Linked DNA regions of Homo sapiens. The protein of the gene in region 5 purifies or fractionates together with the protein of the main gene of each other region. This does not show direct contact. Each region holds a gene or a part of one and is shown on either strand. Other genes may lie near its edges. The genes, in order: NUDT21, ACSL3, DHRS7, EPHX1, ESYT1, SPTLC2 and ATAD3A.

Region 1 (3,500 bases), on a different chromosome or scaffold from region 5:
CCTGGGTGGTGGAGGTTGCAGTGAGCCAAGATTGCGGCACTGCACTCCAGCCTGGGCAACAGAGCGAGACTCTGTCTCAAAAAAATAAAATAAAATAAAATGAAAATCAAGAAACTGTCATAAAAGAATATTTTGGCTGGGCATGGTGGCTCACACCTGTAATCCCAGTGCTTTGTGGGGCTGAGGCCGGAAGATTGCTTGAGGCCAGGAGTTGTAGTGAGCCATGATTGCGTCGCTGTGCTCCAGCCTGAGTGACAGAGCAAGACCCTATCTCTTAAAAAATGTAGTTTTGAGGCCCGGTGCAGTGGCTCATGCCTGTAAGCCCAGCACTTTGGGAGAGTGAGGTGGGCAGATCATCTGAGGTCAGGAGTTCGAGACCAGCCTGACCAACAGGGTGAAACCCCATCTCTACTAAAAAGACAAAAAATTAGCTGGGCATGGTAGCATGTGCCTGTAATCCCACCTACTCCGGAGGCTGAGACAGGAGAATCACTTGAACCTGGGAGGTGGAGGTTGCAGTGAGCCGATATTGCGCCATTGCACTCCAGCCTGGGCAATGAGCAAAACTCCGTCTCAAAAAAAAATTTTTTTTTTGAAAAATATGACTTTACATTGAAGAAACGTGATAAACAGTACCTCAGCCCATTAGTGATAAGCCATATTGATATAGCATGTACCTTTGATATGACGTGATGAGAATGGCCCTTTTACCTCTGTAGTTTTCTTCCCAAAAGCTCATAACTTCAATTTAATTGAGGGATGTTTTACAAAATACTTGACCAGTATTCCTCAAAGCTATCAAGATCATCAAACACAAGGAAGGTATGAAAAGCTGTCACAATGTAGAGGAACCTCGGAAGAAATGAAGATTAAGTGTAATATGGTATCTTAGATGGGATCCTGGGACTGAAAAATGAAAAAGGACATTAGGTTAAAGACTATGGATATCTGAATAATATATGGACTTCAGTTAATAATCTTGTCTTGGTATTGGTTGATTAGTTTGACAAATGTGCTTTACTAGTGTGAGATGTTAACAGTCGGGGAAACTGTGTGGGGTATATGAGAAGTCTCTGAACAAGTTTTGCAAGTTTTCTGTAAATCTAAAACTATCCTAAAATAAACCGTTTATTTAAGACCAAGAAGAATGCTTTTAAAAATAGAAGAAAACATGAGGGGAAAAACAACCAAGAGTTGAAAGTTACAGCCAGTGGGAATGGGTGAAGCAGGACAGAGAACTGCAGTTTCTCACCATGAACATTGTAGAACTATTTTTGGCCACTTAAAATATGTAGAGTATGACTTTGGTTAAAATAAGTTTAGTGTTCTGCTATACAAATTAATAAAAATGAAAGCTGAATTTTGAACACAATTTTTATGTTGATACTAGCTTGCCAGTTTTGAACTAATATTGTATGTCTTGGGCAGAGTGACATCTATATTAACAAATCATAGAAAATCTGTATGGAAGGCATATTATCCCTATGTTTCAATTAGGAGCACTGCTAAGAATTTTCTGTTCACTGAAGAAGGGGATTTGTGAGTACATATATTTAGTTGTTTACTGGCTTATTTCTTTTTGACAGATACTGGGTCGTCAGGATGGAGTTTTGCAAGACTGGGTCATTGACGATTGCATTGGTAACTGGTGGAGACCAAATTTTGAACCTCCTCAGGTCAGTGTTCAGTTACATTTGCTGGGCATTTTGGAAGCAGAAAGCTCGTTTAATTCTAGCCACTTTAAAAAAGATTAAAGTAGAATTTGACTTGAAATTTTCTTTTCTTCCCTCCTTAATTTAAATTACAAAATTAAGCCAAGCACTTCTTATTTTAAAGGAAAATGTAAAACAAATACAAGGCCGGGCGAGGTGGCTCATGCCTGTAATCCCAGCACTTCAGGAGGCCGAGGCGGGTGGATCACCTGTTGAGGTCAGGAGTTTGAGACCAGCCTGGCCAACATGGTGAAAGCTCGTCTCTACTAAAAAATGTAAAAATCAGCTGGGTTTGATGGTACAAGCCTGTAATCCCAGCTACTCCGGAGGCTGAGGCAGGAGAATTGCTTGAACCTGGGAGGCAGAAGTTGCAGTGAACCGAGATTGTGCCATTGCACTCCAGCCTGGACAACAGTGAGACTCCTTCTCAAAAAATAAATAAATAAATAGAACAAATACAAAAGAAGAGAGAATGGTAAAAGTGAATGAATTGCGCTACCCGTCGTCTGCCTTTAACAGTTAGCACATCACAACCCCTCATTCCACCGCTTCATTCTCCTACCCTCATCTTGGATTATTTTGAAGTGTATCCTAGCTATTCATTTCAATTGTAAATATTTCAGTGTGAATCATAAAAATAAGGATCTCTTTAAAAAGATAACTATAGTACTGTTATTATCATACTAAAAATAAACAATTCCATATTATTGTCAAATATATAGTCACTGTTCGCGTATCCTGATTATTTCTATTTTCTTTTTATAATTTGTTTGGATTAGGATAGTCTCTAAAGTCTCTTTTACACACTTGGCACCTTTTTTTTTTCCTTGTGTTTTATTTGTTAATGAAAACAGGCTAATGTTTCCATTTCGATTGCATTCCCCTGTTGTTGTTGAATATGTAGCTGTTTCCCCTGTGTGTCTTGCAAATTGATAGTTAGATCTAGAAATTGTATTCAGGCTCAGTTAATTTGGGGAGGGGTAACAAGGCTTGTCATAGGCGGTATATAATCTATACCTGCATAACAAATTACCTCAAAATTTAGCAGCCTTTAGGCCTCTGGGAGTTGCTTAGGGTGGTTCTGGCTTAGGCTCTGTCATGAAGTTACAGTCAAGTTGTCAGCTGGGACTGCATCATAAGGTGGAACTGGGGTTAAAGTATCTGATCCCGAGCTTACACGTGTGTGTGTTAGCAAACTTCTTAGTTTCATCTGGGCTGTTAGACTAAAGCTTTGCTTCAGGTGTTGCTGGCTGTTGTCTCAAGGTCTCCCTCAGTTCCTTGCCATGAGAACATCTCTAAAAGGACAACTCTCAGGCAGCTGGCTTACCCAAGGCTGTGTGATCCAAGAGATAGTGAGAGACAGAGTGCTAGAGGAGTGCCCAAGTAGGAAGCCTCAGTCTGTGATAACCTAATCTTGGCAGTGGCATACCATCACTTCTGCTGTGTGCTATTGGTCACACAAGCCAACCCTGGTACGCTATAGGAGGGACTACACAAAGCAGTGAATACCAGGAGACAGGAATCATTGGGGGTCATCTTAAGGCAGTCTATCACAATTGGTATAGTGTACTTCCATCAGGAATTTAAAAATATTTGGTTGTTTCTTGTTGTAATGTTAGCAGCTCATTGATGATCATTTCCTGGTCTATGAATTCATAAGGGTTGTGATCCTCATATAAAAAGAAACTTATGTATTACTGAAGTGTGTGGTTTGTGTAGAAAAAAAAAATATGCTGCTATTCCTTTACTTAACATTTTTCAGAAGAATGACTTAATTCCTTAGCATCC
Region 2 (3,500 bases), on a different chromosome or scaffold from region 5:
CAGTATGCTGAACAAGAATACATGCAGTACCATCTATATAAAGTTTAAGAATACACAAAACAATACTATACACTGTCTAAGGAAACACACATGTGTAATAAAGCTGTACAGAAATACATAGGAATAATAAACACCAAATTCAGAGCAGTGGTTAGCTGTAAGATTTGGGGGAAAGGAGTGGGTTTCTTTAAGTGGATTAAATTTTATGAAATATTTTTCAAACATACAGAAAGTGCGTCAATATTTTAGTTAAAAGACAGGAAAAGAAAATGGAATTAGCAGACTATGGGATCCCAAATTCCTTTATATTCCAATCTAAAAAGTCAATAACAATTCCTGCGAAGTAAGGTTAAAGGGGAAAGCATCCTGAGGAATTATGTTCAAGTCCAAAAAGAAAATTCTAGGCCGGGCATGGTGGTTCACATCTGCAATCCCAGTACTTTGGGAGGCTGAGATGGGCAGATCACGAGGTCAGGAGTTAGAGACCAGCCTGGCCAACATGGTGAAACCCCATCTCTACCAAAAATACAAAAATTAGCCGAGTGTGGTGGTGGGTACTTGTAATTCCAGCTCCTCGGGAGGCTGCGGCAGGAGAATTGCTTGAACCCGGGAGGCGGAGGTTGCAGTGAGCAGAGATCACACCACTGCACTCCAGCATAGGTGACAGAGCAAGACTCTGTCTCAAAAAAAAAAAAGAAAAAGAAAAAAAAGAAAATTCTAGTTAAATTCTCTCAATTTCCTTATGATTTCCCCGGGGCGGGGGGGGGGGGGGGGGGGGGGGGCGGGGGGGGCAGGGCAGTTTTATTTGGGGCAGCAACTTTGTGTAATTAAAACAGACATAAAACTGCCCCTAAATGTCATCACAGCTCCTTTCCCTACACAATCATGCCTTCAAAGGTTAACATGAACTTCAAACTGTCACTCCAGAGAGGAGATGCAGCGCCCAGGTTAAGAACAGGGACTCTGGAACCAAAGTGCCTGGGATGAAATCCAGCACACATTTAGCACACAATCGTGCAAGTCACTTAAATTGCTCTGTGCTTCAGTTTCCTCAGCTGTAAAAATTAGAATGATAAAAGAACCTATTTTGCAGTCAGCGCAGTAGCTCCCAGCCTGTAATCCCAGTACTTTGGGAGGGCGAGGCGGGCGGATCACAAGGTCAGAAGATCAAGACCATCCTGACTAACATGGTGAAACCCCATCTCTACCGAAAATACAAAAAATTAGCCGGGCATGGTGGTGGGCACCTGTAGTCCCAGCTACTCAGGAGGCTGAGGCAGGAGAATGGCGTGAACCCGGGAAGCGGAGCTTACAGTGAGCCGAGATCATGCCACTGCACTCCAGCCAGGGGGACAGAGCGAGACTCCGTCTCAAAAAAAAAAAAGTACCTATTTTGCAAGGCTGAGATAAAAATTAGAACAGCATTTGGCCACAGTATACTATAAAGGTGTTGGCTATTATCCTTATTCCAAAGACCATTCATTTAGAAAAACAAAAACTAGGCTTTGTATCCAAATAATATAATTAAGTTCAGTTACTTTCTGCATCAAATAGGAGACAGAAAAGTTGACCATGACAGGACAGGGGAAAATGTGCAGCTTTTCACAGCTAGAGCAATCAACATGAGGATAGTAAGATAAGCAATTTTTAATTTTTCTAACAATATTCTTTGGTAGCGTTATAACATCTCCAATGCGTACACATCTGTGTACACACACACACACACACACACACACACACAGAGGATCCAAAATCAAGGTAAAACATTCTATTTCCTGGCTCCCTGTTGACCTGGGAAAACTCCAGTTCATCTTGGAAAACCTAGTTCAGCTATCATCTCCACTGAGAAGTCTCCCCTTTTCCTTCCCTACTCTGTGCCTGCTCTGCACTTTTTCTCTATTTCCTAGCAGATTCCACTGCTGCACTGATTATACCATCCTGTAATATATTTGCTCATATACCTTCTTCTGTTCCACCATGCTGTAATTTGTTCATACACCTCTTTCCTGTGGTGAACTGTGAGCTCCTTAAGAGCAGGAACTCGCCCAATCATTTCCAAATTCCGAGTACCTTGCAAAACAGACACTAAGTAAATACATGAATGAATGAATCCTTAATAACAAATACCTTCACAAACAAGCAGAAAGCTGTATTTGGAGGCCACTTATCCAAAAGGTTGGTTATTTAAGTATCTTCAATTCTAAACAAAAATTAGCAGATCAGTTGAAACTACTGAATCATCCAATTCTTTACCCTTCAAAATGGGAAACATCAAAAATACGTAAATAAACATATTCCAATAATAACAGAAGCTAAACTTTAAATTAAAAGAATTAAGGCACCTATGATGTCAGGAAAACAGAAACCGTCTGAAAGCTTTTTTCTAATGAAACCAAAAATAAACATGTAAGGAAGGCACCACAGGATTTAACATTTACAATGTCTCCTTTTTCAGAAAATAAATAAATTACAATCAAAAGTCAGATGAAAATATATACTCTATTGAGGGATGAAATTAAGACTGAGCCACATTTTAAATCAATCACACAATGCTCTTGCAACAAAGTTTTCTAAAAGACTGTCATGAGTCAACTAAAATTGGGCTAATTTTTAGAAATTTAACAGTTCTTGACAATTTTTGGCATTTGCTTAGTACTCCATAGGTTACAGGCCTGTATTCTGTTACTGTGGAAGGTGTCCCCTCCTCCCAGCAAAGACACAGGCCTCAGTTGTACTTTGGGTCCCATCCCAACCCCATCCTTTTAGGAACTCTGCACAAACCCTTTTCTAGTCTATATTCAACCACTCCCTCTCCACTGAGCCTTCCCATCAGCATTTAAACATGCTGAAATCAAACCTATTGGAAACAGTTTCTGTCTCCGTTTTCCTCACCTCCCACTGCTCCCCATCCCACCCCTACCTGCAGATCAGCATCTCTTTCAAAGGTCACCAGTGACCTCCATGTTGCTAAATTCAATGATGGTTCTCAATTCTTCTCTCATAGGAGCATTCCACAGTACTGACTCATCGCCTTGCAGGAACATCTGTTTCTGGCTGTCCTCTGACCTTCCTGGCCACTCTTGTCTCCTTGACAAGCTCAACCTCCTCTGCCCAGCTCCATCCCAGGCCTCCTTCTCTTCTTATTCTATAGCCTCCCCACAGGCAATCTCACCCATACCCATGGTTTGAGCTCTTGCCTCTACATGGAGGTCTTCAAAACGGTAAATGGCCACCCCAATTCTCAGCACAAAACCAGTACCTCAATAAAGGCCTCAAAGGCAGCTCCAGCTGAACACTTCCAAAACTAAAGTCATGCCCTTCCCATATCCAGAACCTAGTTCTCTACCAGTTAAGCCCCAGCTCAGTGAATAGCACACATACCTCTTTAGTTGCATAGGTCTGAAACCTAGTAATCACTTAGCACCTCTTTCTCCCACTCCATTTACTATTTATCACCATATCCTGACAATTTTTTATCTCCATTTTCTCAGTATTTCTGT
Region 3 (2,390 bases), on a different chromosome or scaffold from region 5:
TTATTGATAAGCGTCTAAGTTAAGAAAATGCTAGCATAGCTTATTTCAAGCTAATAGTACTTGTTAACTAGAATTTGCTTCTTTAGTCTGTATGTCTGGAACTTTGTTTTTATGAATCTTTATTATTTTTAGGGATCAAGAACAGTGGCTACACTGAATTTTGTATTATCATTATTATTATTTTGTCTTTCTTAGTGCAAAGTTTTGAAAGTGGTAAATGCATATCTTCTGAAAAGAAACATCACATCTTGGGGATTATCAGGTTGCCTTGTTTTATTCCTTAAGCAATATACAAAAAGTTCACAAATAATTTTTTTTTCTTTTTATTTTTTTTGAGACAGAGTTTCCCTCTTGTTGGCCAGGCTGGAGTGCAATGGCGCAGTCTCAGCTCACTGCAACCTCCGCCTCCTGGATTCAAGCAATTCTCTTGCCTCAGCCTCCCGGGTAGCTGGGATTACAGGTGCACACCACCACACCCAGCTAATTTTTGTATTTTTAGTAGAGATGGGGTTTTGCCAGGCTGGTCTCTAACTCCTGACCTCAGGTGATCTGCCCACCTCGGCCTCCCAAAGTGCTGGGATTACAGGCATGAGCCACAGTGCCTGCCTGGCCACAAATAATTTTAAAGAGTTATCTTCCATATATCTCAATTCTACATAATCTGACTCATTGTTTTTATTTATTAGGGCAAGTCAGTGTAGGTATGATATGCTGATCCAGAAAAGTCATTATAGAGAATTTAGCATTGCAGTCCAATGCTATTTATACCTCCTCTAAACCAGAGATGATGCTAAACTCATTAGAAGTACTTTTGTGTACATCTAGAATTTTGGCTATGATTTTTAAATTCTAATTTAAGCAGTTTCTGAACTTTTGTAAAGATTCTTAATAGTGAATCATAATGATACAGCTCCTCAAAACAGAAGGACTTAAATGTTAAAAACTGGAGTAAATAGGAGTAGGTACTGATCCATGTTTCTGTCCCTCTTTTACAGGATGCAGACTCTTCTTATTTTAAAATCTTTAAGACAAAACATGACTGAAAAGAGCACCTGTACTTTTCAAGCCACTGGAGGGAGAAATGGAAAACATGAAAACAGCAATCTTCTTATGCTTCTGAATAATCAAAGACTAATTTGTGATTTTACTTTTTAATAGATATGACTTTGCTTCCAACATGGAATGAAATAAAAAATAAATAATAAAAGATTGCCATGAATCTTGCAAAAAAGGTATTAACTCATACTATATTCTTGGATAAAATAACCTTTTAAAATACTTTAGCACATATGCTTAAAATCTAAGTTAACAGATTTGTCTTAGTCCATTTGTGCTGCTATAACAAAATACCACAGATTTGGTAATTTATAAACAACAGAAATCTGTTTTTCCTGGCTCTTGAGGCTGGGAATTCCAAGACCAATGCACCAGCAGAATTAGTGTCTGGTGAAGGCTGATCTCTGCTTCCAAGATGGCACCTCATTGCTGCATCCTCCACAGTGGAGGAATGTATGTCCTCACATGGTGGAAGGGACAGAAGGGAAAGAGGAGCAAAATGCTTTCAAAAGAGCATTTAATCTCATTCATTACTCAGTCACCTCTTAAAGGCCACATCCTTTAATACTGTTGCTTTGGGGATTAAGTTTCGACATGAATTTTGGAGGGGACAAAAACATCCAAACCATAGCAACATAAATGTATAGAATATTTCACACAAAGCAGAGTGCTGGGTAATGACCAGATATAAAGAAGTATTTGAAATGACCTTACCTCCAAGATGCTTATACTCTTAGAAAAGTTGACAGGTACAGATGGCTGTAATTTGAAGCAGCAGGTAGGATTCATTGCACCTATTATTCATTAAACACCTGTTGTATGTCTTCTACTGTACTGGAGTGCTTAGTATTAGTTAATTAACTCATTCCTCATAACAGCCCACTAAGATAGATGGTATTACCTACCTTGATAGATGAAGAAAGACCAACAAGGTTTTACTTTTCCAAGGTCAAGGTCACAAAGCTAGTAAGGGGTAAAGCCATGATTAGATTCAGCTCAGGAAGATTCCACTGGCAACTCCTTACTTCTACTATTATTAATTTTACTTTAACATTTAACACCTTACAGCAGAAAACATGCACAGGCACTAATAGGAAATCAGCAGGAGTAACAGGTAAAGAAAAACATGGTCCTTATCTACAAGCAGTTCACAATTGAGCTGGAGCCAAAGTAACATACATAAAATAACTGTAGAATAGTTGTTGGGCAAGTTGGAAGCCACCCAAGTGGCTGTCCTTGGAAAAGGGGGAAGATGACATGTGGTAGAGGTACACGATGAGGTATAGCGGGTAGAAGCAATGGAATAAATGCATACATAACAACATGGATATGTA
Region 4 (3,500 bases), on a different chromosome or scaffold from region 5:
GCATGGTGACAGGTGCCTGTAATGCCAGCTACTTGGGAGGCTGAGGCAGGAGAATCGCTTGAACCCAGGAGGCGGAGGTTGCAGTGAGCCAAGATCGCACCACTGCACCCCAGCCTGGTGACAGAGCAAGACCCTGTCTCCAAAAACTAAAAAATTTACAGACCAGGAGAGAGGGTGCAAGTCTCATTGGCATGTATTAGGCTAAAAGGCCAGCCCCAGAGGGAGGAAGTTCATGTCAGCTTAGAGAGCCTCTCAAGCATCACCATTCCCAGGCTTCTTCCCAAGTGTTTCAGTTACCCCCAAACAGATTTTGGAAATCTCAGACTCCCTTAGGAGTCTAATTCCCTAAAGGAGCTTTCCTTAGGGCTCAGCCTTGGCCCTAAATAGCAAGGCTGCAGCAAGCAAGTCCTACCCAGGGAGCCTCAGCCTGGTTGCTCTTGGGTTTAGCCCAGCTTCTGCTTTTAAATCTCTTCCTCCTTGGAACTCTCATGACTTTTATCCATGCTTTTTGTGACATTTATCCTTATGCATCTGTTTCTTTTTTTGAGATGGCATTTCACTCTTGTTGCCCAGGCTAGAGTGCAGTGGTGTGATCTTGGCTCACTGCAGCCTCTGCCTCCTGGGTTCAAGGGATTCTCCTGCCTCAGCCTCCCGAGTAGCTGGGATTATTATAGGTGCCCGCCACTATGCCCGGCTAATTTTTTGTATTTTTAGTAGAGACGGGGTTTCACGATGTTGGCCAGGCTGGTCTTGAACTCCTGACCTCAGGTGATCCACCGCCTCAGCCTCCTAAAGTGCTGGGATTAAAAGCGTGAGCCACCGCACCTAGCCTATCTTTATTTATCTTTTAGTCTACTTTTCTTTGTGCACATTCCTTTTCTCATTCACTGGACTGTATGCTGTTGGACGGAAGGGGCTGTCTCTTCTCCCAAGCACTCACTGGGCCTGCACACAGTAGGTGCTCAAAACCCACGGAATGAAAGAAAGGATTGGCAGGGCCATGCCAGGCCTGCCTACCGTCCTGTCCCCCACTCAAGCCTTGCTCCTCCCCGAGAATGCATTCTCAGTTCACCCCACCTGCCCAGTCACCTCCTTCCTGACTCTATCCCTGTGCAGAGGAGGGGCAGCAGCTTCAGGATTAGATTGGACTTCAAATCCTTCCGCATGTTAGCTAGGCCGCCTTGAACGAGTTGCTTTATGCCCCTGAGCTTCAGCTTCTGCATCTGCAGTTTGGGAACAACAATCCTCACCCCGCGGGATCACCGTAGGGATTGAATGTGACCAGGAATGGCTGACACACAGCCGGTGCCTAACCAGTAGCATCCCTGCCTTCTCAGTGCTTCCTGGGTCTCTGACGGGAACCTGCTCACTTTCTCCCACAACCTCACTCCCAAGGCTTCAGGCAGGGCATAGAGGAGGTGATGACAGCTGCTTTCTGTGACCTTTGATACAGGTTACCCCATCTCCTGCCTGAGCACTGCTGGGCCTTGGGTAGGGAAAGGAGAAGAGAGAAAGTGGGAGGGCTGGGCATCCCTCTCCAAAGCAACCTGCACCTGCCCAGCAGAGGAAAAGCAGACTGAAACACACTCCCAAGTAGGATGGACCATTCCCAAGCCCCCGTCCCCTCCCGCATCTGGCCTAAGACCCAACCCCTGTCTTCGACACACCACCCTCTCCACTGCCCAGCCCGGCCCGGCCCAAGGTGCCTTACGTGGATCTCCTCATCTGACGTTTCCACCTTGAAAGGGCGGATGCTGTCGTCCTCCCTGGCTGCGGACCTCGTGCCTGGCCCCCACCACCCATCTTCAAGTGGCAAAGTTTCCTCTTTGTCCCGGGAGATGAACCAGTAGATGGCAAAGCCCAGCACTGAAGTGAGGAGGATTTCTAGCCACATGGCTCCTGCAAGATGAGGGGAAGCCATTAACAACGGAGCCCGCCCAGCCCGGCCCTGACAGCCCAGAGACTCTGATCCCCAGCAGGCTCTTTCCTGCTGCGCTCCAACCCTGTCCCTGATTTTATTTACACTTGACCTAATATATACATATTATATATATATATACACACACTATATACATATTATATATAGTATAAATATTATATATATATGATCTAGAAAAATGGAAAAACAACAGACAATGAGACAAAATCACCCACAATCCTACTAAGCTTTGAAAACTGTTCATCATCCTGGGAAAATAGGAACCTGGTTTGGCTTCTGCACAGCCCTGGGTAGGGGGTTTTGGGAGCTACATTTCTGAGGCCTCATGTTGTTTTTTTTTTTGAGATGGAGTTTCACTGTGTCACCAGGCTGGAGTGCAGTGGCACAATCTCAGCTCATTGCAACCTTTGCCTCCCAGGTTCCCACCATTCTCCTGCCTCAGCCTCCCGAGTAGCTGGGACTACAGGCACGTGCCACCACACCCAGCTAATTTTTGTATTTTTAGTAGAGATGGGGTTTCACCATGTTAGCCAGGATGGTCTCAATCTCTTGACCTCGTGATCCGCCCGCCTCGGCCTCCCAAAGTGCTGGGATTACAGGTGTGAGCCACGGCGCCCGACAGCCTCATGTTTTTTGCATGTCTGAGAAGGCTTCTGTCCATGACCTCTGGGTTCCCTCCCCCAGGGGAGAGGAGCACCTTTCCTGAATGGTGGCCCACAGCCCCTGCTCTGTCCTTCTTGGAGAGAGGCTTATCCTCAGGGCAGACGGGGTAATGGGGAGGCCCAAGTGCTGGGAGAGTAAGTTCAATTTGGGGTTGGGGGACACTGCTAGGAAGCCCAGCCATGGCCACACAGCTTAGCTGTGTAAGAGCTTTATTGAAACATAATTCATATACCATACAATTCGCCCATTTAAAGTGAACCCTCCAGTGGTTTCTAGGATATTCACAGACATGTGCAGCCATAGCCACAGTCAACTGTAGAACATTTTCATCGGCACGGAGAAACTCCATACCCTTCAGCTGTCGCTCCCCTACTGCCCTCCACGTTAGGTCCTAAGCAGCCTCTAATCTACTTTCTGTGTCCATAGTGTTGCCTGTTACATTTCACATCAACTCAGTTGTCTTTTAATCCCCATTTGTCTGACTCCTGTGTCTTTTTTGATCAGAAGAGGAAGAAACCATAGTCTTGGCAAAGCACTATCAGGCAGATACCAGCCCAGCATTGTTATCTAGCTCTTCATCTTCCTCATTCCTAGGGAAGTAACCCATAGACTGTTCTTGTTCAGAGTAACCTGCATGAATATGCGGGCCGTCCTTATGCCTGAGTCAGAGGAGGGTCTCTAGATGCACTGCAGTTAGGACCCAGACGGAGGAGAAAGCATCGAGTTCTGACAAGGCCCCTGCAAACCACGCCCCAGCAGCGCCCCTCGCTCTGTCTTGGAAACCCAAGGCAGGAGGTGGTCCCTGCTGGGAACCCCACCACTTGCATGTCCTCCATTGGCTACATGTCAGATGTTTGGGACTCTGCTGGGGGGTTGCAGAGGCCCTGGAGTTTGCTCC
Region 5 (3,500 bases):
TAACTCAGCAGCAGTGGGACGGGGGGTGAGACGCTCCAGGCGCAAGTGCAGGCGGCCAGATGGGACATCCTCCAGGGTCAGCCACTGTGGAAGTAGGCAGGGTGAAGACTTGGGGATATGCAGACAGGAGAACTTTGAGAATGAAGCTTGGGCAGGATCAGGAGGGGTTGTTGACTCTAATTCAATGCTCACCTCATCAAGGAAGCCACTGTTTAAGACTGTGGTGAGACGCACTTTACACCTGTTGAAGAGAAAGATTAAGACAAAAGCTAGATGGTGAGAACCAAGGAGGCCAGACTCCATGGCCTAAAGAGCCCCAGCCTGTTTTTCACGTAGACTCCTATGCTCTCACCTGCCCAGAAAATCATCCTTGTCCAAGTCCTTGTCAAAGACTTCAACCTCTAGCTCTTGGCCTGGAACTGATGTGACGATCACCTAGTGGGAGAAAATAGTGCAGATGAAAGATTCTCTCCTTTTCCTCTGCAAATGACTGGACCCCCCAGTCAACTGAACCTCAGAGGTTTCTGGACCACTTTTGGGATTGGGGGAAAAATGGGGCAGAACCAGGAGTCACAGCCACTCAATTCTGACCTCAAAAACCTCATTCCAGCGGGGATTGAGATCTTCCCGAACAACATGGCTCCGGAAGCTTCGTCCTGCCAACTTTAGTTTGACATAGGGGTCTGACTTGCCCTTCACCAGTCCCCCCAAGAAACGGTCTTTGGCAATCAGGTCCTGGGCCTCTAATACATGGATCCGAAGCACATGCTGCAAAAGGGACGGGGGGGTGCCAGATGGCAAAGGGAGAGAGACCTGTCAGAATCTGCCCTGAAACAGGCTTTGCATACTTAGCGGGGCAAACAGACCCTAGTCCTTTCCAGATATAGACTCACCTCAGTCCCAAACTGGCTATCAGGAGTCGTGTGACAGGGTCGAGGTGGGGCATCCACACTGCTGCCTCTCTGGGGATTCTCACTGTCCACGTCCCAAGCACCAGGACAACCAGGCACCGTGGGGAAGCATATTTCTGATGAATCCAAGTACAGGATCTAGGAAGGGTAGTATGATGCTGAATCAAAGAAGTGCAGCTCGTCACCAGCAGGCAAAGCATGTGGGGTGGGGTAGAGGAGGGGCTGTGACAGGGGAACTAGGTGCTGCCCTGGCTGGGCTCATCTCTACAGGGTTCCCTCCACACCCCCTCAACTCATAAGCCATTCCTTCCACCAGTCAGATCAATATATGTTTTTGTGCCTGCTTGGCACTTCTACATGTATTAGCTCTTTTAATCTTAGGGGGGTCCCTTTCCTTACTCTTAATACCAAAGAATCAACAGGCCTTTCCCCCACACCTCAGTACCTCCTCTATTTCCATACCCTCATGACTAGTTTCATATAGAGTCTGGAGTTTGGACCAGAGCTGCTGAGCTGGAACCACTGGTCCAGGATGAGTTCTGGGGCAGTCAGCAGGCGGGCCAGAGGCAGCGTCAGTGCTCCTAAAGTCAGGGCCCTGGAATCATCCTTCACCTACAGGCACAGGAGGAAGGACTGTAGTGAAGGGATTAGGGGAAAGGGAGGCATACTGTGAAAATGATAACATGGCTCCAACTTCATTCCTCTCTGTACCAATCACAAACCTCCTGCTCCACTCAGGGCCATCTTTTTTTTTTTTTTTTTTTTGAGACAGAGTCTCACTCTGTCGCCCATGCTGGAGTGCAATGGCGCCATCTTGGCTCACTGCAACTTCGACCTCCTGGGTTCAACCCATTCTCCTACCTCAGCCTCCCAAATAGCTGGGACTACAGGCGCATGCCGTCACGCCCAGCTAAATTTTTGTATTTTTTAGTAGAGACAGGGTTTCATGGTGTTCCCCAGGCTGGTCTCAAACTCCTGAGCTCAGGCAATCCGCCCACCTCGGCCAGAGCCATCTTTTATAGTCCTCTGCCCAATCCATGGCCCCTTCCACCTTTGTTCATTCTGCTCCCACTATTTGGAAAGTCCTCATTCTCTTCCCTCGGCCTATTTAAATCCTACTCATCCTTCAAGACTCAATTAAAATCCAATTTTTTGCTTCACAAAATCTCCCTAGTTACTCCAGCCTATCCCTTTCTCTGACCCTCCTTAGTCCTATACTATGGATATTTTACTCCCACAAATTCATATGTAATTGTTGCTATTCTTCTGTTCCTTTTTTTTTTTTTTTTTTTTTTGGAGACAGAGTCTTGCTCTGTCACCCAGGCTAGAGTGCAGTGCTTGAAATCAGCTCACTACAACTTCTACCTCCCGGGTTCAAATGATTCTTCTGCCTCAGCCTCCCAAGTAGCTGGGATTACTGACACATGCCACCACACCTGGCAAATTTTTGATTTTTTTTTTTTTTTTGAGACGGAGTCTCACTCTGTCACCCAGGCTGGAGTGCAGTGACGCTATCTTGGCTCACTGCAACCTCCGCCTCCCGGACTCAAGCAATTCTACCTCAGCCTCCCAAGTAGCTGGGATTACAGGCACGCACCACCATGCCTGGCTAATTTTTGTATTTTTAGTAGAGATAGGGTTTCACCATGCTGACCAGGCTATTCTCAAACTCCTGACCTCAGGTGATCCACCTGCCTTGGCCTCCCAAAGTGCTAGGATTACAGGTGTGAGCCACCATGCCTGGCCTTAGTTCATATGTACTTGTTCTTGAATGATTTTATATGTGTATGTCTTGTCTATGAAACTGAAACTGGCCAGTGAGTATTGTGAAGGCAGATACTATGTTTTGTGCTTTTTCTATGACCTTTAAAATGCTGAATGTTGGGCCGGGCACGGTGGCTCACGCCTGTAATCCAAGCACTTTGGGAGGCTGAGACGGGCGGATCACCTGAGGTTGGGAGTTCGAGACCAGCCTGACCAACATGGAGAAACCCCGTCTCTACTAAAAATACAAAAAAAATTAGCCAGGCATGGTGGCACATCCCTGTAATCCCAGCTACTCAGGAGGCTGAGGCAGGAGAATCACTTGAACCCAGGAGGTGGAGGTTGCGGTGAGCCGAGACCACGCCATTGCACTCCAGCCTGGGCAACAAAAGCGAAACTGTCTCAAAAAAAAAAAATGCTGAATGTTAGCAATTTTATTGAGGCATAATTTACATACCATAAAATCACTCATTTTAGGTACCGTGCCCAGCCTCAGAATAATTTTTGTATACCTAAAATGAGTGATTCTATGGTATGTAAATTATGCCTCAATAAAATTGTTAACATTCAGCATTTTAAAGGTCATGGAGAAAGCACGAAACATAGCATCTGCTTTCACAATGCTTACTGGCCAGTTTCATAGACAAGACACACATATATAAAATCATTCAAGAACAAGTACCTATGAACTAAGGCCAGGTGCAGTGGCTCATGCCTATAATCCCAGCACTTTGGGAGGCTGAGGCAGGCGGATCATCTGAGGTCAGGAGTTCGAGACCAGCCTGGCCAGCATGGTGAAACCCTGTCTCTACTAAAAATACAAAA
Region 6 (3,500 bases), on a different chromosome or scaffold from region 5:
GTTTTGTTTTGTTTTGTTTTGTTGAGACAGAGTCTCACTGTCGCCCAAGCTGAAGTGCAGTGGCACCATCTTGGCTCACTGCAACTTCCACCTCCTGGGTTCAAGCGATTCTACTACCTCAGACTCCCAGAGTAGCTGGGATTATAGGCACACACCACCACACCCGGCTAATTTTTACATTTTTAGTAGAGACGGGGTTTCACCATGTTGGCCAGGCTGGTCTCAAACTCCTGACCTCAAGTGATCCGCCCATCTCGGCTTCCCAAAGTGCTGGGATTACAGGCGTGAGCCACGGTACCTGGTCATATACCTTATTATTTTTTAATTAAATAGAGATGGGGTCTCGCCACGTTGCCCAGGCTGATCTTGAACTCCTGGGCTCAAGCAATCCTTACACCTTGGCTTCCCTTAGTGCTGGGATTACAGGTATGAGCCACTGTGCCCAGCCCTTAATACCTATTTTTTGGAGTAAGACTGGATCACACCCATAGTATCAGTACAACCGCATATTTCACTGTACTTAGAAATTATCACAAAATAGTCTGCTACAGTGGCTGTAATCCCAGCACTTTGGTAGGCTGAAGCAGGAGGATGCTTGTGGTCAGGAGTCTGAGACCAGCCTGGGTGGCTGGGTGCGGTGGCTCACACCTATAATCTCAGCACTTCAGGAGGCCAAGGCAGGAGGATCGATTGTACCCAACAGTTTGAGATCAGCCTGGGCAACATAGTGAGACTCTGTCTCCCTCTCTCTCTGTCTCCCTCTCTCTTTATATATATATATTTTTATTTATTTTTGTTTGTTTGTTTAAGTAAAAAAGAGACTAGCCTGGGGAACATAGTAAGACCCATCTCTACAAAAAAAAAAAAAAAAAAAGGCCAGGCATGGTGGCTCAAGCCTGTAATTCCAGCACTTTGGGAGACTGAGGCAGGCGGATTACAAGGTCAGGAGAGCGAGACCATCCTGGCTAACATGGGGAAACCCTGTCTCTACTAAAAATACAAAAAAAAAAAAAAAATTAGCCGGGTGTGTTGGTGAGCACCTGTAGTCCCAGCTACTCGGGAGGCTGAGGCAGGAGAATGGTGTGAACCTGGGAAGTAGAGCTTGCAGTGAGCCAAGATCGCGCCACTGCACTCCAGCCTGGGTGACAGAGCAAGACTCTGTCTCAAAAAAAAAAATTAGCCCACTGTAGTGGTGCACACCTGTGGACCCAGCTACTTGGGAGGCTGAGATGGGAGGATCGCTTGAGCCCGAGAAGTTGAGGCCGCAGTAAGCTATGACTGTGCTACTGCAGGCCAGGCTGGAGCGAGACCCTATCTCGCCAAAAAAAAAAAAAAAAAGAAAGAAAAGAAATTAACGGAAAGTAGCAGATGGATTTACAATAGACCACATTAAAAAACAAACCTCCGGCTAGGCGTGGTGGCTCACGCCTGTAATCCCAGCACTTTGGGAGGCGGAGGCAGGTGGATCACCTGAGGTCAGGAGTTCGAGACCAGCCTGGCCAACACTGTGAAACCTTGTCTCTACTACAAATGCAAAAATCAGCCAGGCGTGGTGGCGCATGCCTGTAATCCCAGCTACTCAGGAGGCTGAGGCTGGAGAATCGCTTGAACCCGGGAGGTGGAGGCTGCAGTGAACTGAGATGGCGCCACTGCACTCCAGCCTGGGCGACAGAGTGAGACTCCGTCTCAAAAAAAAAAAAACCTAACGCAGAGATTATCTCAATGTTTTATGATCCCACATTAAACATGTATTATTTCTATAATGAGAAGTAAAAATTATTTTTTTAAAAAAGGAAGAATAGCTGCCTCAAGCTTTGCAATAAAAAGTAGTCTTAAAGACAAACTTAAGATAAATTTTCTAACAGTAAATGGGTCAAGAGCAAAGGACTTACTTTTTTATCGGTCACAAATTGTGAATTATATTACAGAAGCTTCTCAGAAACTACCCAGAAGGGAACTGACTTTGAGTCCACAAACCATTTATTTAATCAAGTATGGCACACCCACTCAGAATGCAAACAGTGCCTCTACCCATCCCTCTGAATTGCCTATTCTACCAATAAACACTGCTTCTTTCTTCCAAAAACTGAATCTAATTAAATCAACCAATTAACTGTCTTGCTCAAAGCGGTGCAAATTTCTATGGCACATGGGCAAACCCTAAAAAGTGGGCAAGTCTGACTTTTCTGAACATCCTAGTTCTAAAATACTATCTTAAGAACATAGCTGCTTACACATTTCCCAAGAATTCCTGTTAAAGAAAATTCCTGAGTATCTCAAATAACTCTGGAATTCTTCAGATGCAGCTATGTAAGAATCAAGATATGCTTCCCCTTAGAGTGAAAACTGAAATGAAAATCTTGTCCTCCAAGTTGTAAATTACATTATTTCTGAAAAGCCTTCAGGTATCTGAGGTATCTTATCAGGATCTGCTAAATCTAAATAGATATATGACTATTCTAACTATTTCTACTGTTCTAGCCTCATAACTATCGTCTCCTTTTCCTTAACTATCACATATAAACCCCCAGTTACTGTTTCTCCCTCAGTGGAAACAAAAGCTAGTAGCTATTTAGTAAACCAGCTTTATTAGTTATTTATTTGCCTCCTCCTAAGAAGCAAGACTAACACTTTGTTCTTTCTACTTTGCTTATTATTTAACATAAGAACACAACTTTTGCCCCAATTCCTTGAGATAGAATTTTTTATTCTGTAAGCCAGAGAGCTCTCATCCTTCTAATATCTCATTAAAACTACACCCAAAGGGAAAAAAGTTAGGGTCAAAACTGTCTCAAAGGTAGATAACTTTTTTTCTTTCACACTTATTAACTAACTCAGGAAAGTAAAAGGAAAACCTAAATCTCAAAACTTCTATAAAGAAATGGAAGCTCTTTTAAAAAGAGCTGTTAACGTGAAGTTTTAAAAACAAACACACAAACAAACTACTATATTTCAGGTGCAACCAAAACATGGCATTTATTTCATCAAATGTTAAATCCACAGGAAGAAATTTGGTAATTAAGATCATGGAATAATAATCCAATTTGCTATAGAGAAAAACTTGCTGCAAATCCCCTGGAGATCTTTAAAAACAGTACAGAATTTTCTATCAAGACTGATTTTAATAAACTCCTACAAAGAGATAAAGGACTGAATTAAATAAACTCCCAAAGGTTCTTTCCAATGCTAATGTAAAAGTTTCCCTCGGGCAAATTGCCACACCTTACCTCAAATAAAGGTTTGTGCTCCTCCCACTCATCTGAATAGCAGAGAGGAAAAATTACTGCTCTATTGTTCAACTGTTACTATTGTGAAAACTGTGTGTCTACTGTCATCACTAAACAGCAATGTGTGATTGTTTCATAACTCCTTAACACAGCATCTAGCTCATCAAATTCTAAACCCAAATCCAAGAGTTGTTCTTTTACTATACACATTCATTCATCTCTTCAAGCACAGAAACATACTCTTGAGAGTGTAAAGTGATCCTAGACGTTTCT
Region 7 (3,500 bases), on a different chromosome or scaffold from region 5:
AGGCTGAGGCAGGAGAATCTCTTGAACCCGGAAGGCAAAGGTTGCAATGAGCTGGACCCGCGCCACTACACTCCAGCCTATGCAACAAGAGCAAAACTCTGTCTCAAAAAACAAACAAACAAAAAATGAATTAGGCCAGGCCCGGTGGCTCACCCGTGTAATCCCAGCACTTTGGGAGGCCAAGACGGCTGGATCACTTAAGGTCAGAAGTTCGTGACCAGCCTGGCCAACATGGTGAAAACCCATCTCTACTAAAAATACAAAAATTGGCCGGGCCTGGTGGCACAGGCCTATATTAGCTGAGTGTGGTGACGTGAGCCTGTAATCCCAGTCACTTGGGAGGCTGAGGCAGGAGAACTGCTTGAACTGGGGAGGTGGAGGTTGCAGTGAGCCGAGATGGCACCATTGCACTCCAGTCTGACCACAGAGCAAGACCCTGTCTCTAAAAACAAACAAACAAAAGTCATCGGCGCATTAAGCAGCTCCGTCATGTCCTCACGTGACACGGTCTCACCAACATGGTGGCAACACCACCTGCAACATTCACCGTCACACTGACCAGGCCACCGGCAGGCGCTGCAGTCACAGCTCTGGGCGCCGGCACCACGGCAGAGCAAGTGCCCACTCAGTGCCGGGCACCTACCGTGTGCTGGGCGGGGTGGGGACGGAGGACACAGCCATGTGGGACGTGGGGCGCCACCACAGCAGGCCGGAGGCTGGGCACAAAAGAGTGAGGCTTTAAACGAGAGAAGAATCTGTGAACTTCAAACTCTCAGGGTTTTATAAGGAATAAAGAAGGTTTTTGCAAAATGGAGTCAGGGTTGCCTTCTGGTTTTTTTTTTTTTTTTTTTTTTTTTTTTTTTGAGAAGAAGCCTCACTATGTGGCCCAGGCTGGAGTGCAGTAGCGTGATCTCGACTCACTGCAAGCTCCGCCTCCCGGGTTCAGGTGATTCTCCTGCCTCAGCCTCTTGAGTAGCTGGGACTATAGGCGCCCGCCACTGCGCCCGGCTAATTTTTTGTATTTTTTTAGTAGAGACGGGGTTTCACCGTGTTAGCCAGGATGGTCTCGATCCCGATATCGTGATCCGCCCGCCTCTGCCTCTGCCTCCCAAAGTGCTGGGATTACAGGTGTGAGCCACGACTATCGACAATTTTTTTCTTGAGACAAGGACTTTGTCGCCCAGGATGGAGTGCAGTGCTGCGATCTCAGCTCAGTGCAGCTGCAACCTCCCTGGGCTTAAGTGATCCTCCTACCTCAGCCTCTTGAGTAGTGGGACCACAGGGGCTGCCACCACACCCAGCTAATATTTGATTTTTTGTAGAGATGGGGTCTCACTGTGTGGCCCAGGCTGGCAACTGCGTTTTCTTCTCCCAGCTTGAGAAGGGAGGAGAAGCCGAGGCCAGCAGGTACAACGTGGGCTTCCTCCCTGCTGGGAGAGCTACAGGGCTGTGCAGAGCCGGCAGGGACAGGACCTGGGGCTCCAGGAGGCCCCCACATGCTGCCCCTCAGCCACCTGCCAGCCCTGTTTTATGAGTATGTTTACCGTGGCTGTCACTTTGTCCCAGTCTGTCACAAAGGCACGGAATCCTTCCCCAAACAAGGTGCCAGCCGTCCTGCGGGGAAAGCAGTGGTGTGACCAGGAAGGACACGAAGATCCGTGCCACGCAGCGAGAGCAGGTTGAGGGTGAGGCCCTGACATGGCGGCACGGCCTTGCCAGGACAGAGGGGCAGTGCCCCCACCAAGGAGTCAGCCTACGGCGGCAAGGCCTGGAAGAGCTGGAGAGCGCCCTGGGACCAGCGACTCACACCTGCGGGGCTCCATCTGTGGCCGGCCCGGGCCTCGGCAGTGCTCACCTGATGGACTCCAAGACGGTCTGACGGTGCTCGGCCGCCTTCAGGCGGATCTGCTCGCGGATGATGTCTGCATTCTCCCGCTCGGCCTTGGCGCGCGCCCGGGCCTCGGCCTCCACTCGCAGCATCTCATTCTTGTGCCGCAGCTCCATCTCCCGCTCCACGGTGGCTGCCCCAGAGAGGCAGGGCAGCTCAGCACCATGCAGTGCAGCGCGTCCACCTCCACCCACACTGTGGACCGGCCCACGCCACGGACCGGCCCACGCCACGGACAGACCAACGCCACAGACAGGCCCATGCCACGGACCGGCCCACGCCATGGACAGGCCCACACTGCTGACAGGCTAAGGCCACGGACAGGCCCACGCCACAGACAGGCCCACGCCGCCAATAGGCTAAGGCCACGGACAGGTCCATGCCACAGACACACACAGACCTTGGTAGGGACAGCGCCACAGGCCGGCCCTGCCCATGGATTAGGGCAGAAATCCGACCCAGAGGCCTAGGCAACTTCTCAGGACGAGCTCTTTGAAGCAAAAAACCAGAACGCGGAGTTCTGAAGGAAGCCCCCCTCACACAGAAACACAGCTGTCAGAACTCAGACACGCGTGACGTGCCACGTGCCTGGCTACTGAACATTAAACGCACACACCTCGCCACAAGCCCACCCACGGTGAAGAGTGGTGACAGACGTTTGCCTGGAGCACTCGCCAACAAATGCCACATGGCACCAAATACCTGTGATCCCCACTGAAACCAGGACAGTAAAGACCCATGTTCTAGGCAGAACGCAGAGGCTCACGCCTGTAATCCCAGCACTGTGGAAGGCCAAGGCAGGCGGATAATGAGATCAAGAAGTTCAAGACCAGCCTGGCCAACACAGTGAAACCCTTTCTCTACTGAAGATACAAAAAAATTAGCTGGGCGTGGTGGCGGGAGCCTATAATCCCAGCTACTCGGGAGGCTGAGGCAGGAGAATTGCTTAAACCTGGGAGGCAGAGGTTGCAGTGAGCTGAGATCGTGCTATTGCACTCCTGCCTGGGTGACAGAGCGAGACTCCGTCTCAAAAAAAAAAAAAAGGCCCCTGTACTTCCCATGAAGTGAAGCAGCTCCTGCCCTCCCTGAACAGATCCTGGCGTCCACTCGCAGACAGAGGTGTCTTCCGAGAGGCAGCCCCACCCCGCGGAGCCCCAGCAGGCCTCGCCCACTGCACTGGTAGCTATGAGGGGCCGGGCGGCAGAACTCAGGCTCAGAGTGCACGCCGGGTCCACAAGCAGCCCCCGCCACCTCCGCCCCAGCCAGGAGAGCAGACAGCCTACCTCGCCGCATGGCTTCCTGCTTCTGCACGGACTCCTCCTGCTTCCGTAAATTCTCCTCATTGAGAAGTTGCTGAGAAGAAGCCGCAGAAAAAGAGAAAAGCCTTTAAAACCTGTGACTGTGCCCATGTGTGCGGGGGATGACTGTGCCCGAGTGTGCAGGGGGGTGAGTGTGCCCGTTTGCGGGGTGTGACGGTGCCCGTTTGCGGGGGGTGACGGTGCCCGAATGTGCAGGCGGGTGACTGTGCCCATGTGTGTGGGGGTGATTGTGCCCATGTGTGGGTGGGTTGTGCACCCGTTTGGGTGTGTGTGTGTGTGTGTGTGTGTACCCG

Evidence for each region.
Region 1: the proteins of ESYT1 (region 5) and NUDT21 purify together in Homo sapiens (affinity purification with mass spectrometry, with the first as the bait; one study listed by BioGRID). This does not show direct contact.
Region 2: the proteins of ESYT1 (region 5) and ACSL3 purify together in Homo sapiens (affinity purification with mass spectrometry, with the first as the bait; one study listed by BioGRID). This does not show direct contact.
Region 3: the proteins of ESYT1 (region 5) and DHRS7 purify together in Homo sapiens (affinity purification with mass spectrometry, with the first as the bait; one large-scale study listed by BioGRID). This does not show direct contact.
Region 4: the proteins of ESYT1 (region 5) and EPHX1 purify together in Homo sapiens (affinity purification with mass spectrometry; one large-scale study listed by BioGRID and IntAct). This does not show direct contact.
Region 6: the proteins of ESYT1 (region 5) and SPTLC2 purify together in Homo sapiens (affinity purification with mass spectrometry, with the first as the bait; one study listed by BioGRID). This does not show direct contact.
Region 7: the proteins of ESYT1 (region 5) and ATAD3A purify together in Homo sapiens (affinity purification with mass spectrometry, with the first as the bait; one study listed by BioGRID). This does not show direct contact.

Annotation. Positions count from the first base shown.
Region 1 is NC_000016.10:56,437,833-56,441,332, reverse strand, and holds part of NUDT21 (cleavage and polyadenylation specificity factor subunit 5), read left to right. Parts: intron 1-1,586; coding exon 1,587-1,676; intron 1,677-3,500. UniProt on the Homo sapiens protein: Component of the cleavage factor Im (CFIm) complex that functions as an activator of the pre-mRNA 3'-end cleavage and polyadenylation processing required for the maturation of pre-mRNA into functional mRNAs.
Region 2 is NC_000002.12:222,864,036-222,867,535, reverse strand, and holds part of ACSL3 (fatty acid CoA ligase Acsl3), read right to left. Parts: intron 1-3,500. UniProt on the Homo sapiens protein: Acyl-CoA synthetases (ACSL) activates long-chain fatty acids for both synthesis of cellular lipids, and degradation via beta-oxidation.
Region 3 is NC_000014.9:60,143,619-60,146,008, reverse strand, and holds the end of DHRS7 (dehydrogenase/reductase SDR family member 7 isoform 1 precursor), read left to right. Parts: exon of another isoform or gene 1-995; coding exon 996-1,043; 3' UTR 1,044-1,890; downstream 1,891-2,390. UniProt on the Homo sapiens protein: NADPH-dependent oxidoreductase which catalyzes the reduction of a variety of compounds bearing carbonyl groups including steroids, retinoids and xenobiotics.
Region 4 is NC_000001.11:225,827,124-225,830,623, reverse strand, and holds part of EPHX1 (epoxide hydrolase 1), read right to left. Parts: intron 1,900-3,500; 5' UTR 1,895-1,899; coding exon 1,712-1,894; intron 1-1,711. UniProt on the Homo sapiens protein: Biotransformation enzyme that catalyzes the hydrolysis of arene and aliphatic epoxides to less reactive and more water soluble dihydrodiols by the trans addition of water.
Region 5 is NC_000012.12:56,134,767-56,138,266, reverse strand, and holds part of ESYT1 (extended synaptotagmin-1), read right to left. Parts: intron 1,524-3,500; coding exon 1,374-1,523; intron 1,050-1,373; coding exon 894-1,049; intron 769-893; coding exon 592-768; intron 436-591; coding exon 353-435; intron 242-352; coding exon 193-241; intron 85-192; coding exon 1-84. UniProt on the Homo sapiens protein: Binds calcium (via the C2 domains) and translocates to sites of contact between the endoplasmic reticulum and the cell membrane in response to increased cytosolic calcium levels.
Region 6 is NC_000014.9:77,610,138-77,613,637, forward strand, and holds part of SPTLC2 (serine palmitoyltransferase 2), read right to left. Parts: intron 1-3,500. UniProt on the Homo sapiens protein: Component of the serine palmitoyltransferase multisubunit enzyme (SPT) that catalyzes the initial and rate-limiting step in sphingolipid biosynthesis by condensing L-serine and activated acyl-CoA (most commonly palmitoyl-CoA) to form long-chain bases.
Region 7 is NC_000001.11:1,518,662-1,522,161, reverse strand, and holds part of ATAD3A (ATPase family AAA domain-containing protein 3A), read right to left. Parts: intron 3,242-3,500; coding exon 3,172-3,241; intron 2,022-3,171; coding exon 1,856-2,021; intron 1,615-1,855; coding exon 1,545-1,614; intron 1-1,544. UniProt on the Homo sapiens protein: Essential for mitochondrial network organization, mitochondrial metabolism and cell growth at organism and cellular level. May play an important role in mitochondrial protein synthesis. May also participate in mitochondrial DNA replication.